2 separate regions of the Homo sapiens genome follow, and region 1 is linked to region 2. The links come from fine-mapping of genetic effects on gene expression. A gene starts in region 2. The other region holds a variant in brackets. All regions are shown on one strand. Distances are from middle to middle.

The links. PIP is the estimated chance that this variant, and not a neighbour inherited with it, causes the effect. A credible set is the group of variants that fine-mapping cannot tell apart.
Region 1: its variant is the best candidate, but not a certain one, in a credible set for the expression of GATD1-DT in whole blood (TOPMed, PIP 0.55).

What each region holds. Positions count from the first base shown.
Region 1 is chr11:720,812-723,520 of GRCh38, forward strand. EPS8L2 (EPS8 signaling adaptor L2) reads left to right here. Exons shown (of 21, transcript NM_022772.4): 7 at 19-98; 8 at 253-395; 9 at 474-541; 10 at 754-880; 11 at 1,092-1,180; 12 at 1,280-1,354; 13 at 1,590-1,738; 14 at 1,862-1,994; 15 at 2,430-2,542. Among named protein-coding and RNA genes, the nearest start is that of EPS8L2, 16 kb to the left of the region's middle. RefSeq lists silencers at 1-167, 198-247, 278-427, 1,358-1,407. The variant G/A (reference allele first, on the strand shown) is at 1,382.
Region 2 is chr11:776,287-779,259 of GRCh38, forward strand. It overlaps GATD1-DT (GATD1 divergent transcript), which reads left to right and starts at 1,292. Exons shown (of 2, transcript NR_126343.1): 1 at 1,292-1,409. GATD1 (glutamine amidotransferase class 1 domain containing 1) reads right to left here and starts at 1,201. Exons shown (of 8, transcript NM_182612.4): 1 at 1,113-1,201. The coding sequence starts at 1,176. It overlaps LOC124900301, which reads left to right and starts at 1,292. Exons shown (of 2, transcript XM_047427954.1): 1 at 1,292-1,409; 2 at 1,831-2,973. RefSeq lists silencers at 622-831, 842-1,551, 1,602-1,701.

The DNA of each region.
Region 1 (2,709 bases), 56 kb before region 2:
TGACGCCCGCTTTCCCAGGCAGAGCTGGTGCACGAGGACATCGAGAGCGCGTTGGCCGACTGCCGGCTGGGCAAGAAGATGCGGCCGCAGACCCTGAAGTAGGGCAGCGGGCGGAGCGGGGTCGCAGGGGGCGGGGAGGGGAGGAGCCCGGCAGGGGAGGGGAGGAGCCGGCAGGGGAGGGGAGGAGCCCGGCAGGGAGGGAGGGTCAGGTGCGTTCCCGGCGGGGCTGAGCAGGACCCCCTCGCCCTCCAGGGGACACCAGGAGAAGATTCGGCAGCGGCAGTCCATCCTGCCTCCTCCCCAGGGCCCGGCGCCCATCCCCTTCCAGCACCGCGGCGGGGATTCCCCGGAGGCCAAGAATCGCGTGGGCCCGCAGGTGCCACTCAGCGAGCCAGGTGGGCCGAGGGGCTGGAGGGGGCTCCACAGGGCTCGTTGTGGGGGGCTCGGTGAGCAGCCGCCGTGTCCCCCATCAGGTTTCCGCCGTCGGGAGTCGCAGGAGGAGCCGCGGGCCGTGCTGGCTCAGAAGATAGAGAAGGAGACGGTGGGTGCCCGGGCCCGGCAGGTGGCCCCTCTCTTCCCCGCCCCCAGCAGTGGACACTGGTCCTTGCTGTCCCTCCGGCCAGTCCCCAGCCTGTGGCTGCCCCTCCGAAGGTGTGGGGCCCAGCTCCTCCCATCATCTGTGGGGCTGTCCCTGCAGCAAGGCGGGGCGGTGGGGAGTGTCAGGGGCTGACCCCTGACCCCCTCTGACCCCAGCAAATCCTCAACTGCGCCCTGGACGACATCGAGTGGTTTGTGGCCCGGCTGCAGAAGGCAGCCGAGGCTTTCAAGCAGCTGAACCAGCGGAAAAAGGGGAAGAAGAAGGGCAAGAAGGCGCCAGCAGGTGCAGGGGACAGGGACGGGGCCGGCAGGTGCAGGGGACGGGGCCAGCAGGTGCAGGGGACAGGGACGGGGACGGGGCCAGGGACATCCATGGGGGCTACTCATGGAGGTGGAGGAAGGTCCAGCCCACACAGATGGGCTGCGTGGGACAGAAGGCGCAGGGGCCGGGGAGATCAGGGCCAGCCTGGCTCACGCGGTGCCTCCCATGCCAGAGGGCGTCCTCACACTGCGGGCACGGCCCCCCTCTGAGGGCGAGTTCATCGACTGCTTCCAGAAAATCAAGCTGGCGATTAACTTGCTGGTGGGTCCGGTGGCCCCAGCCCTGCCCCACTGTCTGTGCTGAGGGGAGGGTGGAGGCCCCGCCCCGCCCCGGCACCTGCTCACTTGTTCCCACCCCCAGGCAAAGCTGCAGAAGCACATCCAGAACCCCAGCGCCGCGGAGCTCGTGCACTTCCTCTTCGGGCCTCTGGACCTGGTGCCTGGGGCCGGGCGGCAGGGGCGC[G/A]CAGGGTGGGGGCCCAGAGGCCTCTGCAGCATCTCCCCGGGGTCGGGGTTGGGGCAGCAGGTGCCCGCCTTGGGCAGCCCGGTTCACGCTGTGTGGCCACTCTCCCTGGGGTCCAAAGTCCCTTCCCGAGGGCCAGCCTGTGGAGCTACGGGGGTGCTGGGCCAGGGTCTGTGGGCCTCAGTCCCCTCTGAACCTCACTGTGCCCCAGATCGTCAACACCTGCAGTGGCCCAGACATCGCACGCTCCGTCTCCTGCCCACTGCTCTCCCGAGATGCCGTGGACTTCCTGCGCGGCCACCTGGTCCCTAAGGAGATGTCGCTGTGGGAGTCACTGGGAGAGAGCTGGATGCGGCCCCGGTAGGGCAGGGCAGAGCAGTGCCGGGGCTTCATGGGGGGCCAGCGCTGCATGGGGGCCAGCAAGGGGGTCCTGGTGGGCCAGTTCTGGAGAGGCAGGGCTGACTTCAGGACCTCTCACCCCAGTTCCGAGTGGCCGCGGGAGCCACAGGTGCCCCTCTACGTGCCCAAGTTCCACAGCGGCTGGGAGCCTCCTGTGGATGTGCTGCAGGAGGCCCCCTGGGAGGTGGAGGGGCTGGCGTCTGCCCCCATCGAGGAGGTGAGAGCACCAGCAGCCCCCATCCCTACCCCAGCCCCAACACCCACTCCTCACCAGAGCTCCCCCCCAGCCCTGACACCCACCCCTCCCCAGAGCTCCCCCCCCAGCCCTGACACCCACCCCTCCCCAGTGCTCCCCTCCCCAGCCCCGACACCCACCCCTCCCCAGAGCTCCCCTCCCCGGCCCCGACACCCACCCCTCCCCAGAGCTCCCCTCCCCAGCCCACCTCCACCCACCGCCCCTTCAGCCACAGCTCAGCTGCCCCTAGCCCCTGCCAGGAGAGGCAACCCATGCTGGCATCACCGGGCATCAGGCTCCATCACCCTCAGTGATGCATCAGTCACAGGACATTAGCCCAGCCCCTGTCATATGCCCCCTCGTCCTGGGACCCAGCCCCGCCCCATGTCTAACTCAGGTCGCCCACCTTCCCCACAGGTGAGTCCAGTGAGCCGACAGTCCATAAGAAACTCCCAGAAGCACAGCCCCACTTCAGAGCCCACCCCCCCGGGGGATGCCCTACCACCAGTCAGCTCCCCACATACTCACAGGTAAGCCCCCCTCAAAGTGAGGGAGCATGAAAGTGAAACCCTTCAGAACCTACAGTCTCTAAAAACATATGGGTACGCTGCCACCAGGTGGTGGCAAGTGCATTGTTCAAGTGGTTTAAAATACTTTTCCAGATTTGAAGCGGTTTTCATTTCAACTGCATGATATA
Region 2 (2,973 bases):
TTCTTATATAAGTTAATACATATTCACTGTAAAATGTCCACTTATCGAGGAAAAACAAAGTGCCCAGTAGACTGCCGCAGGCTCTGTTCCCCCAGCTGCCCGCCCTTCCGGCCTCCTGAAGTGCTGCCCCCAGCCTGCTGGCGCTAAGACCCCACGTCCTCAACATGCCGGACCTCCTCACGCCTACCTGCTCTGGAAACAAGCCCCAACCCACCCCCCCAGGACTGAACCCCACTCGAGGCTCCTCCCACCCGCAGTCTGGGGGCATCACTCAGGACCCCTGGAGCTCAGCACATCGTGACGCCACAACCCCACAGCCCCATCTCCCCGTCCACACTTGAGGAGCTACAGACTTCAAGAGGCAGACCCCTGGGTCGCAACCCCGGCCCCCACCTCTCCGTGGTGCGGTGACCTTGGGCTGCTCACTTCCCTCTCCAAAAGGCTCAGAACAAGGCCAGGCACCCTCGTGCTCCGCTGCTCATCCCTCCCCTGCTGCCCTGAGACCCTGCAGGCTCAGCGCCAGGGGACGCACCCCGCTGCGCTCCGACCCGCGTGAGCCCCAGGCCAGTACTGCCCTGGTACCCTTGCCCCAGGACGGGGGCCGCGGGGCGCCTTCTCCAGGAGGGGGCTCCGGGTCTCCTCAGAAGCCGGTGGCTCAGAAGGTCAGGGTCCCCGCGGCCGCCCGACCTCAGAGCTGGGTCAACTCCCGGAATGGCCCCTCCCCACACCCGGGCTCCCCTCTCGCAGCGCAGCGGCCTCAGAGACCAGGCCCAGGCACGCGGCTCCCTCCGCTAGAAACGTCGGGCCCGGGCCGCCTCGCCGGGCAGACGAGACTCGGAGGAGCGACGCGGCGCCGGGATCCATCACGACCCCCCGACCCCGCCCCGAGCTCCATCCCACCAACCCGCGACCCCACCCCCGCCCCCGTCCCCGCCCCGAGCTCCATCCCGACACCGACCCCGCTCCGCCCTCCCCCGGCCCCTGCCCGGCGCCCCCAGCGGCCTCGGCCTCCGGCGCCACGTGACGCGCGCCCACCGTGTCCCGAACCTCCCGCCCCGGGCAGCCCCCTCGCGGACGCTCTTCGGACACTGGCCCCGGCCGCCGGGCCTCACCTTCGGCGGCGCCGCTGGCCACGAGCAGACAGGCGGGCCTGTTAGGGAGCCGCTCGGACGCCATGGCTCGGGCTCGGCGCTGGGTCTGCGCGTGCGCGGCGTCTGGGCGCGCCCGGGAGTTCGCGGGTCACGTGCCCTGGCGGCCGGGGGCGGAGCCGGGTGGGACTGGGCGCCTGCGCGTTCGTACCCGGTCCGGGTCGGCTGGGCTGCCCGCCGCTCCGCGCGCCCGGGCGGTCGCAGGTCGCGCCTGCTTTGGCCCCGGCGGGTTCGGCATCCGAGCCTGGCAGGGGCCAATAGGTAGGGTCGCGAGGGTCCTCCCCGGCCGCATGCGCAGTCTGAGCGCGCGCGGGGTAGGGCTCTTGGCCTGGGGTGGGGGCGCGGGCATCAGCAGAGCCAGGCGGCGGTGTCGGGGCGCGAAGGTGCCCGTGGTGTTCCGGTGGCCACACCCGAGGAGCAGGGGAGACCGGGGGGCTGCGGGGTCAGAAGCTCCGGGTGTCCCCGGAGACTAGGAGGGGGACGGCGGGGTCCAGGAGGCGGGGTGGGCTCCGCCGGCCCAGGACGGGGGCGTCGCGGGGAGGCCTGCAGGGTTGTGGGGCGTCGGGCTGAGCTCCTGGGAGGACGGAGTGTCACTTCCTGAGATGGGGACACCTCGGGCGTGCTGGCTTTGGTGAGGAGAATTGAAGCAGTTTTTCTTTTTTTTTTTTTTTTTTTGAGACAGGGCCTCTGGAGTGCAGTGGCGTGATCTCGGCTCACTACAGCGTCTGCCTACCGTGTTCAAGCGATCCTCCCACCTCAGCCTGTTGAGCAACCGGGACCCCAGGTGCACACTCCACCACGCCCAGCTAATTTTTTTGTGTTTTGGGTAGAGAGGGGGTCTCACTGTGTTGTCCAAGCTGGTCTCGAACTCCTGATCTAAAGCGATCTGCCTGCCTTGGCCTCCCAAAGTGCGAGGACTACAGGCGTGAGCCACCGCGCCTGGCCTGAAGCAGTTTTTCCTTAGACTGTAGTTGGAGGGGGTGAGACCACGTGGAGTGGTTGGCAGACAGGCAGGCACCCTTTGAGGCCAAAAGGGCGCTTGAGACAGAGCCAGCAGGCGAGCGGGCCGCCCAGGTCCCTGGCCCCCTGCTGCCAGTATGAAGGTCCCACCAAGCCTCTGCTCCAACCAGGGGAACCGTCATGGTTGGGAACAGCCAAGGTGAGGAATTCTGTGGGTCACACCCCCTGAAAACCACTGGCCTCCGCCGGGCGCGGTGGCTCACGCTTGTTATCCCAACACTTTGGGAGGCCCAGGCGGGTGGATCACGAGGTCAGGAGTTCAAGACCAGCCTGGCCAAGATGGTGAAACCCCGTCTCTACTAAGAAAAATACAAAAATTAGCAGTGGCAGCACCTGTCATCCAAGCTACTTGGGAGGCTGAGGCGGGAGAATCACGTGAACCCAGCGGGGGCAGAGGTTGCAATGAACCAAGATTGCGCCACTGCACTCCAGCCTGGGCGACAGATTGAGACTCCTTCTCAAAAAAAAAAAAAAGCCACTGGCCTCTGGCTCCCCCTGGCCCAGCCTGGAGAAGGGTCCCTGACCCCCGTCAGACAAGCAGTGCACCCTGCCTCACCTGACACAGAGCCCTCCCACCACAGGGGAAGTGGGAGCTGGGAGCTCCTGGTACAGGCAAGGCCGAGAGTTGGGTTAGGGAGCAGAGGACGGAGCTGAGTGAGTGTCCAGTGTTAGGTGGGTGGGGGTGTTAGTGGATGGAGGTGTCTGAAGCCTCGCAGGCCTGCGGTCACACCACAGGCTGGGCCTAGCCGCTTGGAGAGCTTTCTGGATCTGCACAGGATCTTGTCCCCCACAGACACACACTGTG